3 linked regions of the Homo sapiens genome follow. The protein of the gene in region 1 purifies or fractionates together with the protein of each later gene. This does not show direct contact. Each region holds a gene or a part of one and is shown in the gene's direction. Other genes may lie near its edges.

Region 1 (3,752 bases):
AAAGAAAATCTGTAGGCTGGTGACCTCTTGGCTGACCTCTATCAAGTTTTGCATTTCTAACCTTCTATTTTGTACTTGTACTTGGATATTTTTAATATACATTTTAATTTTAATATGCCTATATGGCAAGTGTTAATTTCCCTCTCATAACTTGCTTCTTAAGAAGTTTCTCTAATTTCAGTAAATTACTTCATAATTTACCCACAGTTTTATCCATAAACCTAAGAATCATCCTTGATTTATTTTTCTCACACTTTCATATCCCTTTTATATACAAGTTCTATATTTTCTACCTCCACAACATGTATTCCAAATTCATTTACAGCTCTTCTTTCCCTGTGTGTACCATCCCAGTGTAAGCCATCATCATCTATTGCTTATAATCGTATTTCCACATCAACTGGCCCATTTCTTCTTCTCCAATCTCATTTCAAAGCACCTCCCCCGTTCACCCACACAACGCTGCCTCCATTGGCCTCTTTCCTAGTCCCCAAGCAAGTCATGCTCTTTGCTGTCCACAGATTTTGCTTTTCTTTCTTCTATTGAGAATGCCTGGAATACTAATTCCTGCCCAGCTTCTCCCATTACTTCACCTTATCCTTCAAGACTACCCTCTGTTTTTAACCTTCCCTAAAGTAGCCCACCACTTATCCTATCACATCACCTTGCTTACTTTTACTTAACAATTTAAAACATTCTGTAGTTACAGTAGTCCCTGCTTATCCACGGTTTCACTTTCCATGGTTTCAGTTACCCATGGTCAACTACAGTCTGAAAATATTAAATGGGAAATTCCAGAATTAATAAGTTTAAATTGTGAGCTTTAAATCTGAGTAGGGTGTTGAAATCTCTCACTGTCCAGCTCCAGCCCACCCAAGACATGAACCATCTTTTTGTCCAGCATGTCCATATGTAAACACCACTCTCCCATTAATCAGTTAGTAACCATCTTGGTGAACAGATAAAAAAAAATAGTATAATAAGGCATATACGTATCAGTGGTTTCAGGCATCCACTGTGGGTCTTGAAACATGCTCCTCCACCCCACACACACCTACGATTAAGGGGTAACTACTGTGTCTTATTTATCTATTCATCAGTTTACTGTGTACCTTAACTAGTAGGTAACTTAGATCAAAGCAGAGACCATGTCTTTTCAGTGCATGGCTGTGTCCCTTGAAATACAAGGATTGTGTGTCTCATAGGCACTCAATAAATATTTGCTAAACAACAGAATGAATTGATAATTAAGTGAATGACTGATGTCAAATTCCATTGAGATTCCCAAACCTTTTCATACATCTTTAGCCATCAGTGATAGACTGATGGCTAGTTACCCAAGAAAAGTTTTCTGATTTATTCTTTTACTTTTGATTCTGCCTTGGACTATTGATTGTTTTCATTAATAATAATAATAACATGTTACTTTGGGCAGCTAGTAGGAAAAGCAAGGCCAATGATGCTGACACATTCTGAAGGCCTCCTGGGTGATGCAATCAGTATTTAAACAAATAATTTCTGCCCATCAATCATTCCTCTACTTCCTGCAATGAAGCTCCCTGGAGGAGTCATCAGATTCTCAATCTTGCTTGAAGACTGACAAGATGTCCCTGTGGACTCCCAAACTCTACTCCAGATGGGGAGGTGCCCTTAACACCAAGATTTTAAAAGCTCCAATTTCAGAGCAAGAGTCGAAAACTCACAGATAAAGTTATAGTTATTTCAGGGTTCTGAAAAGACGCAGAACATGAAGGTAAGTAAAGGCTTTATTAACTTGAGACTTCTTAGCTATTTTTTAAAACGTTTTATAGCATTTTACCTATTTCATGTTTAATAAGGATTTTAGAGTTTAAAGGATATTTGAACGATACGCCTTTAGAATAACAGAATCATTTGATTTTACTAAGAAAAAAATTCACGTATTTACTTATTCTTCATTTGGGTGAAGTAATACAAATAATATGTTTCTAAATACGTTTTTTCAAGTGGACTCTTTGTGAATTAACTAGAAGGTAGAAGGGAAACACCTCCAGAAAACTGAGTATTAAAACAGAATATTGCGAGAAGTAAGGGGGTTTATAATTGTCCAGGCGTCAAGGAAGGAAGCAGAAGATCCTATTGGCACAGAAATGACCCTTTCTGGTTGATCGCTTCATATAGGGACTCAGAAGTCTGGCAGCAACAACCTTGGCTCTTTTCCTGGTGTTTGTTTTCCTGGGAAACTCCAGCTGCGCTCCGCAGGTAATCAAATGCAAAATAAAAAATTTTAAAACAATGCGCACTGTGTGTCCACTCTGCTCTTTCTTTCTTCCTTCTTGTTTTATTCTCTTCTTTTTCCTTTATTTTGCTGTAATAGAGGACTGAGCTGCAATGTTTTATTAACTGCTCTTCCCTTCCCCCGGGCTATAGAGACTGTTGGAGAGAAGGAACTGGACTCCTCAAGCTATGCTCTACCTGAAAGGGGCACGTAAGTTCCAAATATTTCGCTCTTCCTACAATAATGGAAGACCCCTAGGAGTCAGGAACAGATAGATGGAGAGTTATGGAGAGAGAATAATGTCGAGTTTATTCCCTTAAATCATCGAGGCCATCAAAGAGACCGGTAGGTGAGGGAGGGGTGGGAGAGGGGAAGAGTCCCTGATTATTGGAAATCCTCCATCCTTATTAGAAATTCTCCATCCAAAACTGGAGGGTTGCTTCTCTTGGTCCAAATGGGGACTCGGGTTGCCTGGGAAATATCTCAGTAACCCGACCTCCGCTCCAAAGCGCCCTTGCGGCGTCCGGTCAGGCGCGGGGCTTTCCTCCAGAGCTCCAGGGCCCCTGGCTCAGCCCGGGGTTGCGCTGGGAGCGCTGGAAACTCGGCAGCCCCGCGCGACCCTATCCTGGAGCAACCTGCCCCCTCCCCACGCCCGGGGACTGCGCTGTGCCGGGAGGAGCTGAGGTTTAAGCCCGGGTTGTCCCGGGCCAGGCTGTCGCTGAGCCCCAGGTCTCGTTTTTGCAGAGGGTCGCCGCTTCATCTCCGACCAGAGCCGGAGAAAGGACCTCTCCGACCGGCCACTGCCGGGTGAGTGACCAAGGGTGCAAGGGCGCTAGTCCTGCGCTTTTGGAATAGGATGGGGCGGGCAGGGCTTGCTCCGCGCTGGTGCCGAAAGAAAGCGTCTCCTCACCGGAAAGACGCGGCTCTGAGGCGCCCTCAGATACAGTCCGCCCGAGGGCAGCCCGGGTTGGCAGCAGCAGCAGCTGGATGCCGAGCGCCGGAGCTGGGAGCTCGCGCGTCCAGCCCCGCGCCAATGGTGGCAAGGGCGGCCCAGGCTGGCGCTGCGGCTCCCCAAGCCTTATTGGCTTGCGGCTGTTCAGCCAGCCCTCTGGCTGCCAGGGTGTGCAGAGGTCCCCAGGGAGTTAGGACCTGAGGTGCAGCTCAGAGGGGTAAGGCGAGATAGGAAGAACTATGCAAATGCTTCTAGAAATGTATCTGCGCGTTTGTGCAGGAACTTTACTCAGCCTCCTCTTAAACGCTGTTATTATTAAAATAAGAACTTACCTAGGAACTTCAAATGTATGCTTTTGTTTGACTAGAAAGAACTATCAAAGGTTCAAAATCAAAAGAGTAACATGCGGGCAGTTAAGGATGGGACCGGGGACTGTTCTTTTTCATGATAAACCTTTCCATCGTATTGTATTAACAAATAACAATACAATTTGATGAAATTGTAAAGATTGAAATGCTAAAATTAAAAAGTATACTTACTTGG
Region 2 (3,652 bases), on another chromosome or scaffold:
CTAAGATGTGTCATATTATGAAATTTTAACAAGCTCTCTTTCAGTGTTTAATAAAATTAAAACCCTGGAAGTGATCACTTATTAAATGAACACCAAGGCAAGGAGCTGGTCTGGCAAAACAGAAATGTGTAAGGCAGAAACCTAAACTTGAGAAGCTTACAGTCAAGTGAAGGATGATAAACCAACTGCCAGTGATAGGGTAGGTGCTTGAATGATGGAAGGAAAATGTGGCTAAAGGTAATAATGGTGTCCCAAGAGAGCTCGGAGCATGAGCCTGGCTTGTCTTGATTATTTTCTAACTTACTACTGCTTACACTATGAATCTTTTCAGTGACACAATGTAAAAGAAGTGCTGAAATTGGTATTTATGCTGAGTGTTCCCCCTGTTTCTTATGGGTGACAGTGCTTTTGGACTAGTTGATCAAGGATTTTTATCTTGCCAAATGTCCCCAAACTTGTTGAGATTTAATGTCACCTCACCTGAATTCTCTGTGCATGATGTGCTTTTGGGCTGTGTGGGTGTGGTTTAAATGACAGCTCAGCTGGAAACTGTGCAGAACTTCAACGTGCTAATAATCTCTTTCATAACAGTTTTGAACTGGAATATTTACTATTGTCAGGTGAATTTAACTTTAAAACATCAGTAAATAATGATTGTCCAGAAATTATGATGATGCGTATTTCTTCATGCACATTAGTAACTTCACTAACCACAATTTTTAGCTGATTTGCTAGGATTTTTCTTTAAACATATGGAGGCAAAAGGTTTTAAGAATAGTGTCAGGGGCATTATTTAATCAGTGTTAGTTCTGACAGGTGAACAACCTGAGTTGGTCTCTGCAGATAGTACCTATGAAACATTAAGGTCAGATTGATTCAGCTACCTGGTGTGTAAGATAATGCCCAATTTATAGTTTCCTTTTTATTTTTTCTGGTACTTCTACAAATATAACCCTGAGCATAGAAATACCCTCATTATTTTAATGGGACATCCTATTTCTACCATGCAATTTGAGCTTGATCTGAGACATTTCTGTGAAGTGTGAAAGTACAGTTAATCATTCTTAAATGTTCTTTTTATGCACAATTGCTTCTTTTAAAATAGCATTTTAAAATAGCATATATTTACTTTTTTTTTTTTTTTTTTTGAGACAGAGTCTTGCTCTGTCACTCAGGCGGGAATGCAATGGTGCGATCTCGGCTCACTGCAACCTCCGCCTCCCAGGTTCAAGCAGTTCTCCCGCCTCAGCCTCCCGAGTAGCTGGGATTACAGGCCCCCGCCATGATGCCCGGCTAATTTTTTTTTGTATTTTTGTAGGGATGGGGTTTCACCATGTTGGCCAGGCTGGTCTCAAACTCCTGACCTCAGGTTATCCACCCGCCTTGGCCTTCTAAAGTGCTGGGATTACAGGGGTGAGCCACTGCACCCAGCCATATTTACTTTTCTAAAGAAAATATGTAACACTGCAAATGTGTGTCATCCTTCTGCAGGGGCATGCTAGTCCTCTCTGAACTGTTATGGTTTTAGTGTATGTGCTGCTGAAGTGAGCACCATATATTTACTTTTGCTGCCAAATGAAATTATGTGGGAACTGTCTACCACTTCTCTTTCATTTTATGTTTATATAGAATGAAGAAATGTAATTGAATTTATTTTCGTTTTTTACTTTTTATTTTTTTCTTACAGACAAGGTCTTGCTCTGTCACCCAGGCAGGGATGCAGTGGTGTGATCACAGCTCACTGCAACCTTGAACTTCTGGGCTCAAGGGATCCTCCTGCCTCAGCCTTTTGAGTAGCTGGGACTACAGGCGCGTGCCACCATGCCTGGCTATATTTTTCTTTTTTTATTTTTTAGGAGAGACAAAGTCTTGCTATGTTGCCCAGGCTGGTCTCAAACTCCTGGGCTCAAGTGATCCTCTTGCTTTGGCTTCCCAAAGTGCTGGGATCACAGGCATAAGCCACCGTGCCTACCTGTAATTGAATTTTCAAGTGAAAAACCTGACTATATCGCCTGCCTAATCTAAGGTGTGTCATATTGTGAAATTTTAACAAGCTCTCTTTCAGTGTTTAATAAAATTAAAACCCTGGACGTCATCACATATTAAATATTAAGGAGCTGGTCTGGCAAAACAGAAATGTGTAAGGCAGATACCTAATCTTGAGAAGCTTACAGTCAAGTGAGGGATGATAAACCAACTGCCAGCGATAAGGTGGGCACTTGAATGATGGAAGGAGAATTATGATAGAGGCATCTGTGGATTGCTGCAAGAGCCTTGGAAAGAACATCTAAAGTGGACCTGGGCACTGGGGAAACGTATCTAATCTGAGATGTCAAGGTTGAGTGCCTATAGTAAAAATATCTATTGAGCATATAGTGAGCATTTACTCTGTGGCAGATACTGTGCTATGTGCTTTGTGTTCAATTAGTTTAGCCCATGGTAATACAATCAGGCAGGTGTTCTTTATGTGACAAAGGAGGAGACCGAAATGCAAAGAAAAGTGACTTGCTTAAGATGACACCGTTTATACGAGGTGGAGCCTGAATTCGATTCCAGCCTGTGTTACTCCTGAACTCAAGAGTTTAGATTTGTGCTAGATTTCCTTATAATAGAAACCAGAGAAGAGAAGGGTGAAAGGGGCATTCCAGCCAGAAGCAGCAGTATGTGAAAGTTCTGTGGGAGAGGATGGTGTAGCTGAGGAACTACAAGTGGTTTAGACTGGCTGGAGCTTAAAGTTCAAAGGTCAGAGAGGGAGGCAGAAGGGAAGCACCAGTCAGGTGAGGAAGAGCTCTGTGGAGGAGAAAGGAGCAACTGACAGTCTTCTAGCAGAGAAGTCACATGCTCAAAACTGTGTTTTAGAATAGTCCTTCTCAGTGGCAGTGTAGACACTGGAATGTAAGAAAGCAAAAGTAGGCCAGGCGTGGTCGCTTACAACTGTAATCCCAGCACTTTGGGAGGCTGAGGCAGGCGGATCACAAGGTCACGAGTTTGAGACCAGCCTGGCCGGTATGGTGAAACCCAGTCTCTACTAAAAATACAAAAAAAAAAAAAAAAAAAAACTAGCTGGGCATGGTGGCACGCGTCTGTAGTCCCAGCTACTCGGGAGGCTGAGGCAGGAGAATCCCTTGAATCTGGGAGGTGGAGGTTGCAGTCAGCCAAGATTGCACCACTGCACTCCAGCCTGGGCAATAGAGGGAGACTCCGTCTTTAAAAAAAAAAAAAAAAAGGCAAAAGACCATCTAGGAAGCACTAATCCAGGTGAGAGCATGAACTAACAAAGTGGGACTGATTTGGAGGAAAGCTGATCAGAGTTGCTGTTGGAGGGGAGAGTATGGAGCATCGGAGAGGAAGGAGTCAAAGATGACTCCTGGGACAGATTCTGGAATAGCTGGGTGAATGGGGACCATGACCCTGATTTGGGAGCAAGAGCAGATCTGAGGGTGAAGATATAGAGTTTGGGACCCTGTTTTGAAGTGTCAGTGGACTAGTCCAAGGATGGCTGATCATAAACAGCTGCATATACAGATCCAGAGCTCAGGAGACAGAGCTGGGCTGGTGATATGGATTTGGGAGTAGTCAGCAAATGGATAGTGGCAGAAGTAGTTGAAATGAATGTGTTTGGAGTGACAGTAAGATCTGGAGGATTTTACCA
Region 3 (3,652 bases), on another chromosome or scaffold:
TGGAAGGCTTCTGGGGGATGCCTGGGCCCCTCCAGCCCTACCTCTAGTCCTGCCACTTTACAACTGAGCACCTCCCGCTGCTGCCTGCTGAACCCTTCAGAGTCCTTGCCACAGGCCCTATTTACTTTTTCCTGAGAAGGTATGTGTGATGCCAAAGAGAGAAAAGCAGCATTTGCTAATTTGGGTAAAATGTTTCTTTGGGAAGGGCAAATTGATGTACAGTTGTCCCTCAGTATCTGTTGGGACTGGTTCCAGGACCCCGTGGATACCGAAACCCTCAGATGCTCAAGTCCCTTATATCAAATGGTGTAGAATTTACATGTAACCTAAACACTTCCTCCTGTACACTTTAAATCATCTCTAGATCCCTTACACTACCTAATACAAACTAAATGCTATATAAATAATTGTTATACTGTATTTTTTAAATTGCTATTATTTTTTATTGTTGTGCTATTATTTTTATTGGGCTCCCTCCTCCCCCTCCCACCCCAGTAATTTCAATCCAAGGTTGGTGGAATCCATGGATGCAGAAACAATGGATACTGAGGGCCGGCTGACTAGACCTATTTTTATTGTAATTACTCATTCTCTTCTACCTCATTAAGCTTGGTTCTTTCAAGCATGAATACCTGGTTGAATCTGCATAACCTCTTATTATCGACCTACCTTTGTTCACACACAAATGATTGCCACTTAGAGCTCTCCTACCGGGCTCCTTTTGTAAAATAAATTTTATCTTCTCCAGATAGAAAGAAATGTGATACCTTGCGGATTTTGCGGTTTCCTTGTTTTGCTGGATTGCAAGTCCTTTAGACATAAACAAATGTTCTGTACCCCGACATCGGTGGTACCCAGCTCTCAGTTGAGAAAGAGATGTAATGTGAATGCCACTCTTGGCCCCAGGCACTCCTCACTTGCCCCCACTGGGGACTGGTTCATACCCTCCTCTCCTGGCCTCAGTTTCCATACCTCTTAGTGAGGCCTTTGCGTTATACTTCAGAAATATTGTCAGTATGACTTTGAAGATGAAAGTTTGCCCCCAAAATCACTCTCTGTTATCATTGTGAAACCAGAGATGGAATGGAAAAATGGGTTTCTGAGACATTTTAAATTATTCCTTGCTTGTCTTTAGAGGCAAAATTCAGATAAGAAAGCTTATCAATTATACTTTTGTTTCTACTCAAAAACTCATGACTGCTCACTCAAAGACTCCTTGTTCTTATCTTAAAACATTGTTTACAGTGTCCCAGATGAATGGCAACAAATCCTGGGGTTTGGTGTTTGGATGGTACATTTCCCTGGGGAAAGAAATAACAGTTTGAGATGGAACCGGGTTGGGGTGGGAGAATACTTCTCATTCTGAGGAATATTTAATTTTGCCAAGATGAGCATTTCTAGTTCTTAGTCTGTTGACGAAAAGAGCTATGGTTTGTTTCTGGAACTTTTGATAAAAAATAAAGAAATTTGTAGCCTGGGGAGTTTGGTTTTAAAATGCAAACACAGGAGTTATGAGTTGAGACTTGGACAGGGTGTCATTTTCTTTTTAAAGGGCAGCAATATGATTCTTTGATTTGTCTTTGTTATCTTGACTTTTAATCCGGATTCCTGGGCAGTTGTTCAGCCCCAGGACATCTCCATGGGCAGGTGGCCTGGCCTTGGCACACTACCCAGTAAATCTCTGCCTGAGAGGACGCTTTAGCTGGGAGGCCAGGCTGATTTTTAAAGGCAGAATTGGACTATTTACTCTAAAACAGTAATGCACACTGTTTAGAAAGAAACATTCCTATTCTGGGAGGAAGGAGGAGACACACAGAAGTATCATTTATTTCTAGTCTTTTCTGGTAGAAGCTATGAAGCTGAGTTTACTCTCTGGAAATTTGTAGTTTATTTTCTAGAAAATTGCATTTTATCACTGCAAAAAGGATTTTATTTCCAAATGAGTAGGCTTTTGAGCAAGAGTTTTGGAGTCACAGAGATGGGGTTAAGAAAGTGATAATGTGCAATGGCGATTCTCAAGTTCAAGGAGAAAAAATAACATGCTTTTATTGGGATACTTTGCTTGTCTATAAAAGAAAGTAGCTATTGGCATTTATGTAGAAGTCAGCAGTTTCTTGGCACCAAATAAATAATTTTGTGCTGAATAAAGGGAGAGTTATCCATAGTATTTATTACTAACCAAAGAAATGCAGGGAGAATTGTAATTCATTAGGTTTTGATGGCCAGGAAAGCCAAGCTGTGTTATTAGGGTCATGACAATCACAGACATTACGGATGGCTGACCTGTAGTATGGATAGAGGGCAGAGGGTAGAGTGTGAAATATATCACAGAATTATGTCAAATAATCTGGATAGTTACTACTGCTTAAAATCTAAGTGCACAGCTAGAAAAGTGGGTAGTGACGCACTACAGTCTTGCTGAACACTGGGTAAGAAAATCATAGCAAACGTTGAGTCTGTTTTGGAAATGTTCTAAAACCAGACTATTAACACAGTGAGCCATTTTAAATGTGGCTTGCTACGTGTTTGGAGAGAAACACATACTCTTTTATTAGGAACATGAAACAAACTCTTTGAGCCGCAGTATCACTGCGAGTGAGTTTAATTGCTGGGATTAATAAATCACAGCTGCAAACGTTAAATTCTTGGCAGGATTCTTTATTCAGCTGTTTTCCCCTTGCCCCATTACATTCCAGATTTGTGGTCTGCATTATGTCTGGAGCCAGAAGTAAGCTTGCTCTTTTCCTCTGCGGCTGTTACGTGGTTGCCCTGGGAGCCCACACCGGGGAGGAGAGCGTGGCTGACCATCACGAGGCTGAATATTATGTGGCTGCCGTGTATGAGCATCCATCCATCCTGAGTCTGAACCCTCTGGCTCTCATCAGCCGCCAAGAGGCCTTGGAGCTCATGAACCAGAACCTTGACATCTATGAACAGCAAGTGATGACTGCAGCCCAAAAGGCAAGAATGCTCCTCGGAACCTGAGTTTCTCTCATACAGAGCAGATTGCTCTTTACCCCTTGATCAGTGGTTGGGTAATCCCAGGCTTCCTACCACCCTCTGAAAAAGCATCCAGGTAGTTAACCTGAGTTGAGTTAGTCAGTTGAATTAGGAGCCTTACCCCTCAGAGAGTGGTCCGTGGACCGGCATCCCCTGGGAGCTTGTTAGAAATACAAAATCTTGGGCGGCACCCCAGACCTACTGAATCAGAATGTGCATTGCAGCAGGATCCCCAGGTGATGCTTTCACATGGCAAGTATGAGAAGCCCAGGACTAGATCCCCAGTTCTCAAGTGTGGTTGTACATAAGAATCACGAGGTAAGTGGTAAACACTATGGCTGCCCGGGTCCTGGAGAGTCCGTTGTAATTGGTGTGGAAGGGGTGTGGACTGGCACTGGGATTGTTTTAAGGCTCCCCAGTGCAGTCTAATGTGCAGAAAAATTTGAAGATGACTGGGCGTGATGACCTCTCTGAGTCATTCGAAGCTTCACTGAAGTAGTAAGCATCTGCAAGAATGCCGTTTGCTCCCTTCAGACTGTTTGAGGCTCGTTTCCGGTCTCTATGTCGGACTACGATCAGTCTGAGACCTTCGCCCAGATAGAACTGACCCCAAACTGACAAAGGGAAGGTCAGTGCCAGCCTTTGTGAAGGC

The links.
Region 2: the proteins of SPX (region 1) and NCEH1 purify together in Homo sapiens (affinity purification with mass spectrometry; one large-scale study listed by BioGRID and IntAct). This does not show direct contact.
Region 3: the proteins of SPX (region 1) and BTD purify together in Homo sapiens (affinity purification with mass spectrometry; one large-scale study listed by BioGRID and IntAct). This does not show direct contact.

What each region holds. Positions count from the first base shown.
Region 1 is NC_000012.12:21,524,726-21,528,477, forward strand, and holds the start of SPX (spexin precursor), read left to right. Parts: upstream 1-1,570; 5' UTR 1,571-1,747; coding exon 1,748-1,753; intron 1,754-2,160; coding exon 2,161-2,241; intron 2,242-2,409; coding exon 2,410-2,467; intron 2,468-2,805; exon of another isoform or gene 2,806-3,001; coding exon 3,002-3,064; intron 3,065-3,226; exon of another isoform or gene 3,227-3,426; intron 3,427-3,752. UniProt on the Homo sapiens protein: Plays a role as a central modulator of cardiovascular and renal function and nociception. Also plays a role in energy metabolism and storage. Inhibits adrenocortical cell proliferation with minor stimulation on corticosteroid release.
Region 2 is NC_000003.12:172,701,024-172,704,675, reverse strand, and holds part of NCEH1 (neutral cholesterol ester hydrolase 1), read left to right. Parts: intron 1-3,652.
Region 3 is NC_000003.12:15,632,728-15,636,379, forward strand, and holds part of BTD (biotinidase isoform 1 precursor), read left to right. Parts: exon of another isoform or gene 1-139; intron 140-2,696; 5' UTR 2,697-2,712; coding exon 2,713-2,961; intron 2,962-3,652. UniProt on the Homo sapiens protein: Catalytic release of biotin from biocytin, the product of biotin-dependent carboxylases degradation.